2 separate regions of the Homo sapiens genome follow, and region 2 is linked to region 1. A link means that fine-mapping ties the variant in region 1 to the expression of a gene that starts in the linked region. Tissue or cell type: subcutaneous fat. Region 1 holds a variant in brackets; the other region holds the start of a gene. All regions are shown on one strand. Distances are from middle to middle.

Region 1 (8,107 bases):
AGTTGGCTGAGAATGATGGTTTCCAGTTTCATCCATGTCCCTAAAAAGGGCATGAACTCATCATTTTTTATGGCTGCATAGTATTCCATGGTGTATAGGTGCCACATTTTCTTAATCCAGTCTATCGTTGTTGGACATTTGGGTTGGTTCCAAGTCTTTGCTATTGTGAATAGTGCCGCTATAAACATACGTGTGCATGTGTCTTTATAGCAGCATGATTTATAATCCTTTGGGTATATACCCAGTAATGGGATGGCTGGGTCAAATGGTATTTCTAGTTCTAGATCCCTGAGCAATCGCCACACTGACTTCCACAATGGTTGAACTAGTTTACAGTCCCACCAACAGTGTAAAAGTGTTCCTATTTCTCCACATCCTCTCCAGCACCTGTTGTTTCCTGACTGTTTAATGATCACCATTCAAACTGGTGTGAGATGGTATCTCATTGTGGTTTTGATTTGTATTTCTCTGATGGCCAGTGATGATGAGCATTTTTTCATGTATTTTTTGGGTGCATAAATGTCTTCTTTTGAGAAGTGTCTGTTCATATACTTTGCCCACTTTTTGATGGGGTTGTTTGTTTTTTCCCTGTAAATTTGTTTGAGTTCATTGTAGATTCTGGATATTAGCCCTTTGTCAGATAAGTAGGCTGCAAAAATTTTCTCCCATTCTGTAGGTTGCCTGTTCACTCTGATGGTAATTTCTTTTGCTATCAGAAGCTCTTTAGTTTAATTAGGTCCCATTTGTCAATTTTGGCTTCTGTTGCCATTGCTTTTGGTGTTTTAGACATGAAGTCCTTGCCCAAGCCTATGTCCTGAATGGTATTGCCTAGGTTTTCTTCTAGGGTTTTTATGGCTTTAGGTCTACATGTAAGTCTTTAATCCATCTTGAATTGATTTTTGTATAAGGTGTAAGGAATGGATCCAGTTTCAGCTTTCTACATGTGGCTAGCCAGTTTTCCCAGCACCATTTATTAAATAGGGAATCCTTTCCCCATTGCTTGTTTTTCTCAGGTTTGTCAAAGATCAGATAGTTGTAGATATGCGGCATTATTTCTGAGGGCTCTGTTCTGTTCCATTGGTCTATATCTCTGTTTTGGTACCAGTACCATACTGTTTTGGTTACTGTAGCCTTGTAGTATAGTTTGAAGTCAGGTAGCATGATGCCTCCGGCTTTGTTCTTTTGGCTTAGGATTGACTTGGTGAGGCGGGCTCTTTTTGGGTTCCATATGAACTTTAAAGTAGTTTTTTCCAATTCTGTGAAGAAAGTAATTGGTAGCTTGATGGGGATGGCATTGAATCTATAAATTACCTTGGGCAGTATGGCCATTTTCATGATATTGATTCTTCCTACCCATGAGCATGGAATATTCTTCCATTTCTTTGTATCCTCTTTTATTTCATTGAGTAGTGGTTTGTAGTTCTCCTTGAAGAGGTCCTTCACATCCCTTGTAAGTTGGATTCCTAGGTATTTTATTCTCTTTGAAGCAATTATGAATAGGAGTTCATTCATGATTTGGCTCTCTGTTTGTCTTTTATTGGTGTATAAGAATGCTTGTGATTTTTGCACATTGATTTTGTATCCTGAGACTTTGCTGAAGTTGCTTATCAGCTTGAGGAGATTTTGGGCTGAGACAATGGGGTTTTCTAGATACACAATCATGTCATCTGCAAACAGGGACAATTTGACTTCTTCTTTTCCTAATTGAATACCCTTTATTTCCTTCTCCTGCCTGATTGCCCTGGCCAGAACTTCCAACACTGTTGAATAGGAGTGGTGAGAGAAGGCATCCCTGTCTTGTGCCAGTTTTCAAAGGGAATGCTTCCAGTTTTTGCCCATTCAGTATGATATTAGCTGTGGGTTTGTCATAGATAGCTCTTATTATTTTGAGATATGTGCCATCAATACCTAATTTATTGAGAGTTTTTAGCATGAAGCGTTGTTGAATTTTGTCAAAGGCCTTTTCTGCATCTATTGAGATAATCATGTGGTTTTTGTCTTTGGTTCTGTTTATATGCTGGATTACATTTATTGATTTGCATATGTTGAACCAACCTTGCATCCCAGGGATGAAGCCCACTTGATTATGGTGGATAAGCTTTTTGATGTGCTGCTGGATTCGGTTTGCCAGTATTTTATTGAGGATTTTTGCATCGATTTCATCAGGGACATTGGTCTAAAATTCTCTTTTTTTGTTGTGTCTCTGCCAGGCTTTGGTATCAGGATGACGCTGGCCTCATTAAATGAGTTAGGGAGGATTCCCTCTTTTTCTATTGATTGGAATAGTTTCAGAAGGAACGGTACCAGCTCTTCTTTGTACCTGTGGTAGAATTCAGCTGTGAATCCATCTGGTCCTGGACTTTTTTTGGTTGGTAAGCTATTGATTATTGCCTCAACTTCAGAGCCTGTTATTGGTCTATTCAGAGATTCAACTTCTTCCTGGTTTAGTCTTGGGAGGATGTATGTGTCAAGGAGTTTATCCATTTCTTCTAGATTTTCTAGTTTATTTGCATAGAGGTGTTTACAGTATTCTCTGATGGTAGTTTGTATTTCTGAGGGATCGGTGGTGATATCCCCTTTATCATTTTTTATTGCGTCTATTTGATTCTTCTCTCTTTTCTTTTTTATTAGTCTTGCTAGCAGTCTATCAATTTTGTTGATCTTTTCAAAAAACCAGCTCCTGGTTTCATTAATTTTTTGAAGGGTTTTTTGTGTCTCTATTTCCTTCAGTTCTGCTCTGATCTTAGTTATTTCTTGCCTTCTGCTAGCTTTTGAATATGTTTGCTCTTGCTTTTCTAGCTCTTTTAATTGTGATGTTAGGGTGTCAGTTTTACATCTTTCCTGCTTTGTCTTGTGGGCATTTAGTGCTATAAATTTCCCTCTACACATTGCTTTGAATGTGTCCCAGAGATTCTGGTATGTTGTGTCTTTGTTCTCATTGGTTTCAAAGAACATCTTTATTTCTGCCTTCATTTTGTTATGTACCCAGTAGTCATTCAGGAGCAGGTTGTTCAGTTTCCATGTAGTTGAGCAGTTTTGAGTGAGTTTCTTAATCCTGAGTTCTAGTTTGATTGCACTGTGATCTGAGAGACAGTTTGTTATAATTTCTGTTCTTTTACATTTGCTGAGGAGAGCTTTACTTCTAACTATGTGGTCAATTTTGGAGTAGGTGTGGTGTGGTGCTGAAAAGAATGTATGTTCTATTGATTTGGGGTGGAGAGCTCTGTAGGTGTCTATTAGGTCCGCTTGGTGCAGAGCTGAGTTCAATTCCTGGGTATCCTTGTTAACTTTCTGTCTCGTTGATCTGTCTAATGTTGACAGTGGGGTGTTAAAGTCTCCCACTATTATTGTGTGGGAATCTAAGTCTCTTTGTAGGTCACTAAGGACTTGCTTTATGAATCTGGGTGCTCCTGTATTGGATGCATATATATTTAGGATAGTTAGCTCTTCTTGTTGAATTGATCCTTTTACCATTATGTAGTGGCCTTCTTTGTCTCTTTTGATCTTTGTTGGTTTAAAGTCTGTTTTATCTGAGACTAGGATTGCAACCCCTGCCTTTTTTTGTTTTCCATTTGCTTGATAGATCTTCCTCCATCCCTTTATTTTGAGCCTATGTGTGTCTCTGCATGTGAGATGGGTTTCCAGCACACTGATGGGTCTTGACTCTTTATCCAATTTGCCAGTCTGTCTTTTAATTGGAGCATTTAGACCATTTACATTTAAAGTTAGTATTGTTATGTGTGAATTTGATCCTGTCATTATGATGTTAGCTGGTTATTTTGCTCGATAGTTGATGCAGTTTCTTCCTAGCCTCGCTGGTCTTTACAATTTGGCATGTTTTTGCAGTGGCTGGTACCGTTTGTTCCTTTCCATGTTTAGTGCTTCCTTCAGGAGCTCCTTTAGGGCAGGCCTGGTGGTGACAAAGTCTCTATATTTTCTAGTTTGTGCACATAGAAATGTTTACAGGAGTCACTGATACTCTCTTGTATTTCTCTGATATCAGTTTTAATGTCACCTTTATCATTTCTTTCTTTTTTTTTTTTTTTTGAGGCTCGCTCTGTTGCCCAGGCTGGAGGGCAGTGGGGCAATCTCAGCTCACTGAAACCTTGACCTCCCAGGTTCAAGCGATTCTTCTGCCTCAGCCTTCCAAGTAGCTGAGATTACAGGCA[C/T]ACACCACCATGCCTGGCTACTGTTTTTTGTATTTTTAGTAGAGGCGGGGTTTCACCATGTTGGCCAGGCTAGTCTCGAACTCTTGACCTCAAGTGACCCTGCCTCAGCCTCCCTAAGTGCTGGGATTACAGACGTAAGCCACTTTGTCCAGCCTCACCTTTATCTTTTCTGTATTGTATTTTTTTGAATATTCTTTTTTTTTCTTTGTTAGCTAGCTGACTATCAATTTTGTTTATCCTTTCAAAGAACCAAATTTTTGTCTCATTGATCCTTTATACCTATTTTTTTTCTTGTCTCAATTTCATTTAGTTATGGTGTGACCATTCTTATTTCTTTTCTTCTGCTAACTTTGGGCTTGGTTTGCTCTTATTTTTCTAGTTCCTTAGAAGTGACTTTAGGTGGTGAGTTTGAGGTCTTTCTATCTTTTCAGGGAGGGTTTAACACTATAAATTTATCTCTTAGCACTGCTTTCCCATATCCGAGAGATTTTGGCATGTTGTATGTCTATTTTCATTCATTTCAAAAAATCTGTTGAATTCTGAATTTCATTCTTTACCCAAAAGTTGTTCAGGGACACATTGTTTAATTTTTCATGCACTTGTATAGCTTTGAGAGTTCCTCTTGATATTGATTTCTAGTTTTATTCAACTGCAGTCTGAAAAAATACTTGATATGATTTTGAGTTTTTAATTTTATTGAGACTTGCTTTATAACCAAGGATGTGGTCAATTTTTGAGAATGGTTCATGTGCAGGTGAGAAAAATGTGTATTCTGTAGTTGTTAGGTAGAATGTTCTGTAAATGATTATGATGTCCATTTGGTTCATATTCCAGCTTAAGTCCAGAGAGTTTTTTTTTTGGCTGATTTTCTGTCTCAATGATCTGCAACATTTATAAGTGGGGTGTTGATGTCATTTACTATTATTGTACTTCTCCCAGTCTGTTTTCTTAGGTGTAGTAGTATTTCTTTTATGAATCTGGGTGCTCCAATATTGAATACATTTATATTTAGGATGGTTAAATCTTCTTGCTGTATGGAATCTTTATAATATAATGCTCTTCTCTGTCTTTTTAAAATATCATTGGTATAAAAGTCTGTTTTATCTAGTATAAGAATGGCTAGTCCTGCTTGCTGACATTGATATATCATGTAAATGAAAACAAATCTGTAGGTGTCATTAGACCTAATGGTAGATCTCCTGTAGATAAAAGCTGTTGGGTCTTGTCCTTTTATCAAATTTTCTGTTCTATTTCTTTTAAGTGGAGGATTTAGGTAATTTATGCTCAAGGTTAACCTAGATATATGAGCTTTTGTTTCTGTCATGGTCTTGTTAGCCAATTGCTTTAGAGACTCAATTGTGCAATTACTGTATAGTAATTATGACCTGTGTACTTCATGTCCTTTTATGATGGTATCATAATATTTTTATATTTAAGATTCCTCTGAGCATTTCCTGAAGGGCTAGTCTAGTGGTGACAAATTCCCTTAAAATTTGCTTGTCTGTGAAAGATGATTTCTCCATTTTTTTCTATAAAAAGGCTAAAAATAGGCCCCCAATATCTTCCGACTTTTAGGTTTTCTGCTGTTAAATCTGTTTAGTATAATAGGATTTTCTTTAGAGGTGATTTGTAGCTTCTCTGTAGCTGCTTTTAAAATTTGTTCATTCTTATTGACCTTGGGTGGTCTGGTGACTGTATGCCTTGTCGATGTACATTTAGCATAGTATCTTTCAGGTATTCTCTGAATTTTTTGAATCTCATTTCTAAATGTCTATCAGGATAAAGAAAATATTTCTGCATTATTTCTTCTACTATGTTTTTCAAACTTCTTACTTCTCTTCATCTTCCTTAGAAATGCTTATTAGTTGTAGATTTGATGGCTTTATATAATCCCATATTTCTCAAAGCCTTTGTTCATTTATAACAATTATTTTCTTTTTTAAATTTCTGACTGGATTAATTTGAAAGACTAGTCTTCAAGATATGAAATGCTTTCTTCTGCTGGTTTAGTCTACTCTCAAAGATTTAAACTGTATTTTAAAATTCCTTCAGTGAATTTTTTTGTTTTCAAATTTTTGGTTTTTTCCCAAAATAAGTATATCTTTTTTTCTTTCCTTGATTGCTTTTGTAGTTTCTTTGTGTTTGTTTTTGACCTTCTCTGGATCTTATTGAGCTTTCTTATAATCCATACTTTGAATTCTATACCTGACGTTTCTCAATTTTATTTTGATTAGAGTCCATTGCTGGAGACTTAGTGTAATTTTTTGACAGTACCACAACATTCAGATTTTTTATGGTGCAAGAATTCTTGTACTGGATTTTTTTCTCATTTGGAGAAGCCGAGAGTTCTTGGTTTGAATTTACATTCATTCCGATGGAATTCTTTTCTCTATTTTTGCTTTATACCTCTGCCCTTGAGGGTGTGATTGTAGAGTGTCATGAGTAGTGTATTTTGGCTTTGCTTCAATAGCCCTATGGCACTTGTGTTGGTAGGTTTTTACATTGAGTTGCGCAGTTCAATTCACAGGCCAGTAGAGGGTACTTATGAGTAAGAGCCAGCTGTGCCAAAGCAGATGGGTATATACTCGATCTTTGTTTACTGTGTGAGGCTTTCTGTTGTTTCAAGTGATGGGATGGACCGTGGAATGATCAGTGCCCTGAGCTTCCTATTCAGTGTGTGACAGAGATATATCTGGGTAGAGCTGGAGTAGCTTAATTACCTGCAAATACCCCAGTGATGAGCACAGGCACCAGCCCAAAGAGAGGTTACCAGAGAAACTTCTGTTGTAAAGCATGAAGTTCTCTGTGGGGGTTAGGAAACTGCACTGATCCACAACCTGGGTAGTCAGTAACACAATCTGTTTCCCTAATACATCCCTGTCTTGGGCCTTGTGACTCTCAGTTCAGATGCACACTGCTGTCTATCTCCAGGCCACAGTGTAGCTGAGAGCCATAAAATAAAAAACTACTGTCCCATAGCTCTCTAAGGAAGTGATAATTGGGGTAGAACCTCTTCACCCAGTTCAATATAGACAGCTTTGTGGCTCTCATGTAGTGTGAGGTGGTAATGCTGCTTCTTCATGGAGATAGAAGGAGAGGCTCCACCTTTCAGCACTTCTGTGTTGGTATCAGCTATATTGGTGTCATCTGGTTGGGTCAGCCCAGTCTCAGGACCCCAGGGAAGTGATCACATGCCAGCATTGTTATACTGTGTTGGGCAATTTTCCAATTTCAAATTTCACATTTCCCAGGCCCCTACATGGTAATGGAATGGCATGTATGAGGAAAGAAGACTGATGAGTGGTGATGAAATTACAAGACAAAGTGAGACTGTTCTGTCCTAGAAGTCAGATGAAGAAATTGTTTTAAGAAAAGAGTCAAATGCTATTAATAGGACAAGTAAGATGGAGTCTCAACATTGACCATTGGCATTGACTATTGACCTTTACAAAGTCAAGAATGTTTTGATAGCATGATGGAGGCAAGAGTCAGAATAGTGTGCATTCAATAAAGTGTAGGATGAGAGTAATTAGATACAGAGTGTAGAACATGTTCAAATAATGGCCTGTAAAGGGGACCAGACGATTGAGCAACCACCGAAGAAGAAAACGGAGTAAAATGAGGGTTATTTTTGTGATGACAGTAAAAACAGCATGCCTGTGTGCTCTTAGGGAGAACTTAGCAGAGAGAAAAAAAACTGATGATGCAGGAAAGAGAGAATGAGAATTGCTGAAATTACGTCCAAATTAGTTTTCTGTTCCTGCTGTAACAAATTACCACAAACGTTATGGCTTGAAACACCACAAATTAATTTTCTCGAAGTTCTGGAGACTAGAATTCCAAAGTCTGGTTCAATGGGCTAATGTCAATGTGGCCACAGGCCTAAACATGTATTTTTCAGAACATATCTCTAATGTTAGGTAATACATGACTGCAAT
Region 2 (8,107 bases), 260 kb before region 1:
TATATGTTGAGAATCTTTAAATAAAACTGCTCAACCACCAAAAAATTATTTCTCCCCATTTCTATTCATCAGTACTTCTTATCTTGAAGGCTGATTTCAATAATCATTTATCCCTCACAACTTCATACAATTTCTTCCTTTTAGAGTCCCACTGAATATCATTTATATTTATCCCACGCTATTTTTTTATTCTAGTTTATATTATTACTTGTGAACTTTCCTAATCTCGTCTCCCAAACACACAAACCCTTTAGCTACTTCCATGGGAGGCTATCTTATCTATTACTCTCCACACCCCCAGCCACGGGATATGCAGGAGACACTAATGGATCTAGTATATCACACAGGAAGCAGATCACCAGGACGACAATTACAATCAGCAAATCCCAGTATCCACTAAAGACAGTGACAAGGGTAAAAAGACAATAGCTGAGAGCGAGGTAATAAGTGTTCATGAAGAATTTCTTAAGCCTCAGCATCTTAGCAGCTATAGCAGAATGCCATAACAAAGACAAAAGTATTTTGAGTGTGAAGTTATACCATGACATACAAATGCATCTGTCAATGAGGCCGTTAGAAATCTTCCAGACCAAAGGTCCCAAACACCCACCATAACCTTCTGATTCAATAGGGCACATATGGGGAAACTGTACTGTTAAAAAGCACTTCTACCAAGAAAAGGCAAAAAATGTCCCCTCACCACTCCTTCTCAACACTGTACTGGACATCCTAACTAATATAATAAGACAAAAAAGGAACTAAAAGGTATACAGGCTGGGTGCAGTGGCTCACGCCTGTAATCCCAGCACTTTGGGAGGCCAAGGAGGGTGGATCATGAGGTCAGGAGTTTGAGACCACCCTGACCAACAAGATGAAACCCCATCTCTACTAAAAACATAAAAATTAGCCAGGCATAGTGATGCATGCCTGTAATCCCAGCTACTCATGAGGCTGAGGCAGGAGAATCGCTAGAACCCAGGAGGCAGAGGTTGCTGTGAGCCGAGATCCCGCCACTGCACTCCAGCCTGGGTGACAGAGTGAGACTCTGTCTAAAAAAAAAAAAAAAAAAAAAAAAAAAGATATACAGTTTGGGAAGAAAAAAATTAAACTGTCTTTGTTCACAGGTGACATTATTTGCTATCTTAATTTAATTTCCAAAGAATTGATGAAAAGCTTCTGAAACTACTAAGCAATTATAGCAAGGTTGCAGAAGACAAGATTAATATACAAAAATCAACTATTTTCCTATATACCAGAATTCAACAAGTGGTATTTGAAATTAAAAGCACAGTACCATTTACATTAGCACCCCCGAAAATGAAATACTTATGTATAAATCTAACAAAATACATATGAGTCCTATATAGGAAAACTACAAAACTCTGATGAAAGATGTAAAAATAAATAAATAAATCGAGTGATATTCCATGTTCATGAATACAAGGACTCAATATTGTCAAGACATCAGCTCTCCCCAAACTGATCTAAACATTCAGTGTAATCTCATCAAAATCTTACTAAATTATTTTGTGGATAAACTGAATCCATAGTTCATATGAAGAAGCAAAAGACACAGAATAGATAACTCAATATTGAAGGAAAAGAACAAAGTTAGAGGACTCACACTACCTGACCTCAAGACTTACAATAAATCTACTGCAGTAATCAAGACAGTGTGGTATTTATGAAACAGGCAAATGGATCAATGGAACAAAATAGCACAGAAATAGATCACCACAAATATAATAAGCTGATGTTTGACAAAGGAGCAAAGGCAATACACTGGAGAACTTTCAGTCTTTTCAACAAATGATGTTGGACATCCACATGCAAAAAAATAAATCCAGACACAGATCTCACACTCTTCATTAAAATTAACTCAAAGTGGATCGAAGGCCTAAATGTAAAACACAACACTATGAAACTTCTAGAAAATAAGAGAAAATCTAGATGATCTTGGGTTTAGTGATTTTTTTTATTTTTATTTTTTATATTGATTACTGTGTTCCAGGATATTCTAATTTACTAATTTTTATTTTAATTTTTTTCTGTCTAGTCTCTGATTTTTTAATTTTAATTTTTATTTCAATTGTTTTGGGGCGACAAGTAGTGTTTGGTTGCATGGAAAAGTTATTTAGTGGTGATTTCTGATATTCTGGTGCACCCATCACCAGAGTAGTGTACATTGTGCCCAATGTGTAGTCTTTTATCTCTCACTCCCCTCCCAGCCTTCCCCCTGAGTCCCCGAAGTCCATTATATAATTCTTATGTCTTTGCAATGACTTTTAAAATACAACATCAAAGGGATGAGCCATGAAAGAAATAATTGATAAGCTCACTTCGTTAAAATAAAAATTTTTTTATTTTGCTAAAGACAATGTCAAGGAAATGAAAAGACAAGTTACAGACAGACTGGGAGAAAATATTTACAAAGACACATCTAATAAAGGACTCTTATCCAAAATACACAAAGAACTCTTAAAATCCAACAATAAGAAAATGAATGACCCAAATAAAAAATGGGCAAAAGACCTGAAAACACACCTTATCAAAGATATACAGATAGCAAAGAAGCAGAGTAAAAGATGCTCAACGTCATAGACTTATGGAATTTCTGTTAAAACAATGAAATAGCATGATACACGATTGCAGTGCAGTAGAGCTTCCCCCAGGAATACTGTTCCCAGACTTGTGCAGGGCTGGTTCCCTCACTCTTTGCCTTTCTGTTTGCAGCATAAATGCCACTTCATTGAGGTGTTGAGGATTCCCTCACTCTGTCCCTTCCGCCTCTCACCACAAGCACCTGCTTTATTTTACTATAGCACCTGCTCTTTTTTTTTCTCATGCATTTGCTTTTATGCTCTGTCCATTCATTCCTACAGATGGTGAGCTCCTGAGGGCAAGGCCCATGCAGGTCATTTTCAGCACTGCACCCTGGCCTAACTTGCCCCGTGCACAGGTGAGTGCTCCAGGCACAGTTTCTGAATGAATAAATGAGAGTATCGAAGATCCCCCTTCCCACCTGTGAGGAGCTCACATTGAGGAGATGGATGCTCACAGGAGATGCAAGTTGGGTGGGAGGCAGGGGGACACCCAGAGTGACCCTGGGAGTTTCTCTGGCTGCAGCCGCCCCATTGAGCAGAATGGGCAGCGCCTCCCCTGATGGCCAGCACTGAAGACCCAGGCAAGGAACCTAGAAACAAAGCCCTCATCTGGGTGTGGGTGTCCTCAAGGCAGTAGGACTCCCAGGGCTGAGGGGGGCAATGAAGGGGGAGCTGTAAGCTCCAGGAGAGATAAGAGGGGCGTCGGAAGGCTCCCTTGACCCCTCTTTCCCTCCACTGGCCCTGGGGGAGCCCAGTCCACTCATAAGGGGGGTGTCCAGTCCACCCCATCCACTTCCAAACGGGGGCCCGAGGCTGCAAGCAAGGACGCTCCCCTCTACATGCAGGGCTCGGCCTCCCCTGCACCACCCAGGACCCCCGCTGTCCTGCAAGCCCCAGCCGCTCTGGGCCAGGACCCAGGGAGTGGAAGGCATTTTCCAAGGGCACAGTGGCTCCCTGACGGGGAACCAAGGCCAGGCACGCTTCTCCCAGACTGGGGGCCTCGGGGCACCTGAGAATGGCCATCCTTGGTACAAGAGAGCGGGGACCCACTCCCGCGCACCCTGTGCCCCAGGGGACGCAGGACTCTGCACCCTGACCCTAGAGCTTGCCCTAGGATGGCCCGGCCATGGCGAGGCCCTGGAACGGTGAAGACTCTCTGCCCATCAACCTAGCACCTCTGCCCTACCCTCAGTCGCATATGCACCCGGTGCGAGGGAGAAGGCAACCAGGAGGTCACACCTAAGGTGGGGGCGTGAGCGGCAATGCCAGCCGATTGTAAAACCTTCCCTGCTCCTGCGTGGCTCTGCAAGCCAATCGAAAATTCCGTCGTCTATGCCGCCAGCCAATCAGGATGTCCAGAGCGCGGTGCTTCCAGCCATTTGGGACTCCAGCTGGCTCTGCGCCTCCAGCCAATCGGGGTGCCCGTCCTTAATACAACCAGCCAGTCAGTGCCCGGCGCGCGACACCAGCAGCCAGTCAGGAAGCCCTGCGTTCATGCTTCCAGCCATTGTCGGAGTGTCAGCCGTCACAAGGCACTTCCAGCCAGTCGCAACGGCGGGTCGCCAGCGCCGCAGTAGCTCGCGCGGTGCCTGTCGGTAGTCGCGTGCGGGGCGGCGGGGCGGCGGGGCGGCCGGCGGCGGCCATGGGAGATATCCCAGCCGTGGGCCTCAGCTCCTGGAAGGTGACGCGGTCGCGGGCAGGGAGGCGCGCCTGACCTAGGGGAGCGCGGGACTTGGGGGCGCCCGATGGGACCCAGGCCGGGGCTGGGGAGAAGTGCGGCGGCCTCCCCTCCGCCTGGCCGACGCCCGGGAAAGGCGCTGCTGAGGTGGCCGCCCACCGCCCACAAGCAGCCCGGCCCGGCCTTTCCTAAAACGGAGTCGGTGCTGCCCGCCGAGGCGCTCTCTGGGAGAAGCGGGAACCTCGGCAGCCAAGCCTCAGACTCTGGGGCTGCGGCCGCGGCGTTGGGCGGGGCTGCTCTGTGGAGAGGCGGAGCCCTTGAAGTTACTCAGAACTGGAGCGGGGATGCCGAGGGGAGGCCTTGGCGGCGCTGGACTCGGCCGGAACAGGGAACCTCGAAGCCTCCTCTCCAGCAAAGAGAGAAAGAAAAGTTGGGGCCGGGCGTGGGGTGCGGGCTTGTAATCCCAGCACTTTGGGAGGCCGAGGCAGTAGGATCGCCTGAGCTCAGGAGTTCAAGACCAGCCAGGTCAACATGGCGAAACCCTGTTTCTACAAAAAATGAACAAATCAGCTGGGCTTGGGGGTGCGCGCCTGTGGTCCCAGCTACTCAGGAGGCTGAGGTGGGAGGATCACTGGAGACCAGGAAGTCGATGCTGCAGTGAGCTTTGATGGCGCCACTGCACTCCAGCCTTGGGGACAGAGCCAGACCTTGCTGGAAAAAAAAAAAAAAAAAAGAAAAAAGGAAAATTGGAATTGCTGATTAGGCTTTAAAAGAAACTTTGGGATCTCATGTTGTTCCCTGTTTAGAAGCAACCTGCCCTGATGCCTGAGACATATAATCGCTCTGTGCATTTATGGGGTGCAGCGTAATGTTTTGAGCCGTGTATACAATTGCAATGTGGTTAAATCAAGCTAATTAACATATCTATCACCTCTCTCAGTTATTATTGTTTGTGGTAAGATGTTTGAAATGTCTTGTTATTTTGAAATACACATGTGTAGTAAATTATTGTTGACTGTTGGCATCCTAGTGCGCAGTAAGTCTTAAAAGCTGTGTCTCCTGTGTGTTTGAAACTTTGTACCCTTTGATCAGCAACTCCCCATTCCCTCCTTCCTCACCTCCCCCAGCCCCCAGCGTCTTATAACCACCATTCTATTCTACGACCTTTCTCTGCTTTGAACTTCACAATTCCTGCCAGTGATTTGAGACAGCACTGACTAAAAAGCGTTTAAAATTTGATCTTTAAAAAAAAAAAGCTAAACTTAGTTGTTGATAAAAGCTATAAGAAGTCATATAGGAAGTTAGTTACTGAAGGAGTCAGAATGTTCAAGGCCTGCTCATGAAAATATTATTTAAATTATTTCTCTTACCTGCTTACCAACTCTTAGAGGCTAGGAGTGTCGTTTTGTTCATATTGGTTCTCAGCATCTAGTGAAGGACGTGCATCTGTCAGCCCTTCATTCAGTAAGCACTCGATGGATTAAACTGTTGAGTCTCTTGCTTCCCTTTATTTCTGCAACAATTTGGTGCAGGAGTCCAGACTTTCGTGCACACAGGATAAGGAAAAATTAGTGAAAACTGTGCTTAACAGGTCAAAATATTCTATTTATTTTTCTTGGACTGCAGGTGCATCAAATTGGATTAATCATAATCACTCATCACTGGTCTATGCAAAGGCTTATTTTTACTCGTCTATTTTTAATAGTGAATAAACATCACAGACCTATCCGTTATCTGTTGCCCCAGAAATGCTGCATCAATGGCCAAACACCAGACCTCAGTGGTGTACAGCAGCAAGTGTATTCCTCCCACACGGGAGGTCAGGAGAGCAGCTCTGTGGACCTTGGCTGGGCTCAGTTGGGATGGTTGGGGCTACTCCACTTGGCTCCGCACATCTCCTGTCCTCGTGCGGTTAGTTAGGGAGTGTTCTCAAGATGATGGCTGAAGCACAAGAGAGCAAGGGGAGCGGTGAGATGTCTGGAGACCTCAGCCTGGGCTCTTCATTATTAGGGGCCACTTGATCCATCTGTGTGCCTGATCGGTGCTGTCTTAATTACTACAGTTCCTTGATAAGCGCCCATACCTAGTAGGGCAGGTCACCTCTCCCTGCTGTTGTAGATTTACAGTGTACAATTTGATGAGTTTTGACAGATGCATGTACCTGGGTCCTGGCTTTTTATTTTGGCACCTTACTCTCCACTGTAAGTTTTAGAACTAGCTTAGAAGGTTCCATGAGAAACTTTATTGGGGTTTTGATTGGAACTACATTAAATCTGTAGACCAGCTTGGAGATAATTGACACCTTTGTAATGTTAAATCTTAACTTTTCTACAAGCATGGTATTCTTCTCTGTTAATAAATTGTCCTGAATATGGTTCATTTCTAACATCTTTTCATATGGTTGTATAGTTTTTCCTGAAGAGAATATATGTCTTTTGTTGGAATTATTATTGGGTTCTTGATAGTGTGTTATACTACTGGAAATTATATTTCTCTGAAGTTACATTTTCTACTTGTTTCACCTGCTATATTCATTACACTTCCAGCCACTTTACTAAACTGTACTGTTATTTCTGTTAATTTGTGTTACATTTGTTTGGATTTTCTACACAAATGATCATATCATCAGCAAATAATGGTAGTTTACTTTCCTTTTTTTCCACTCTTTAAGCTTAAAATTGCTTCTTCTTAGTTGTTCAGGTGCTTCTGGAAAGCACCTCCAGCACAGTGGCCATTCTTGTTTTGTACCTGATTTTAAAGGATGTAAGATGGATATTTTTTAATATTGATACTCTTTATCAGATTAATTCTTTTCCCCGACTTACTGGGAGTTTAGATTTTGAATCTAAACTGGTATTGAATCTTAACAAATATTGATTGAGTTGACTTTTGTTTTTGTACTTTAATCTGTTAATATTGATGAATTACAGATTTTCTAATATCAAACCATCCTTAGATATCTGAGATACACTCAACATGGGTGTGGTATATTATCTTTTCATAAATATTGTTGCATCCAATTTGCTTTTATTTTACTTATGAATTTTGCAACGGTATTCATGAATAAGATGAATGTGTGACTTTTAATATTTTTGTCTGATTTTGATTCAGGGTTATGCTAGTTTTGTAGAATGAGTTGAGATAAGTCCGTCTTTTTCTGTTGTTTGAAAGTCTGTGTTAAACTGAGATGATTTTTTTCTTGAAAATTTTATGAAACTGGTGGTTTTCTCTTTTTTTTGAATTCCTTGCATTCTTTAATAATTATGTAACTATTCAAGCTTTATTCTTGGGTTAAATTTTTCTAGGAATTTTCCCATTTTATCTCATTTTTCCAAGTTATTGACATATAGTTATTGGTAATATTTTCTTTTAAGTCCATTTTATCTGCATGTTTTACTGTCCATTCGTGTCAGTTTTTTAAAAAGTTGGCCTCTTCATCAACCTAGCCAGAAGTCTGTTTATTTTACTGAAGTTTTTCAAAGAACTGACTTCTGGTTTTGTTGATCTTCTCTGTTACATCTTTGTTTTCTATTTTATTGATGTTATTCTTAATCATATTTTTATCTTTCCATCCAATTTCTTGGGTTCTTTTTCTAACTTAAGATGGATACTTGGTTCATTAGCTTTCAACCACTCTGAATCTGTTGCCTATAAAATGAAGATAATTATGCTGCTCTAACTCCTAGGGTTACCGTGAAGCTCCAGTGAGAAAGTGGTTTGTGAACTATAAAGCCCTTGTCAGTCTTCAGTTTAATGAGACTGCAAACCCGCCCACCCCCATAGTCTTCCCTAGTTCTAGTCCCTTCCCTTGCCTGAGCTTCATTTA

What was found. PIP is the estimated chance that this variant, and not a neighbour inherited with it, causes the effect.
Region 2: AKR1E2 starts here. The variant in region 1 is fine-mapped to the expression of AKR1E2 in subcutaneous fat (FUSION, PIP 0.95).

Annotation. Positions count from the first base shown.
Region 1 is chr10:5,083,350-5,091,456 of GRCh38, forward strand. It overlaps a transcript of AKR1C3 not described here. Among named protein-coding and RNA genes, the nearest start is that of AKR1C3, 7.0 kb to the right of the region's middle. RefSeq lists a silencer at 6,548-6,842. The variant C/T (reference allele first, on the strand shown) is at 4,170.
Region 2 is chr10:4,822,080-4,830,186 of GRCh38, forward strand. AKR1E2 (aldo-keto reductase family 1 member E2) reads left to right here and starts at 4,128. Exons shown (of 10, transcript NM_001040177.3): 1 at 4,128-4,284. The coding sequence starts at 4,246. RefSeq lists a silencer at 4,555-4,634.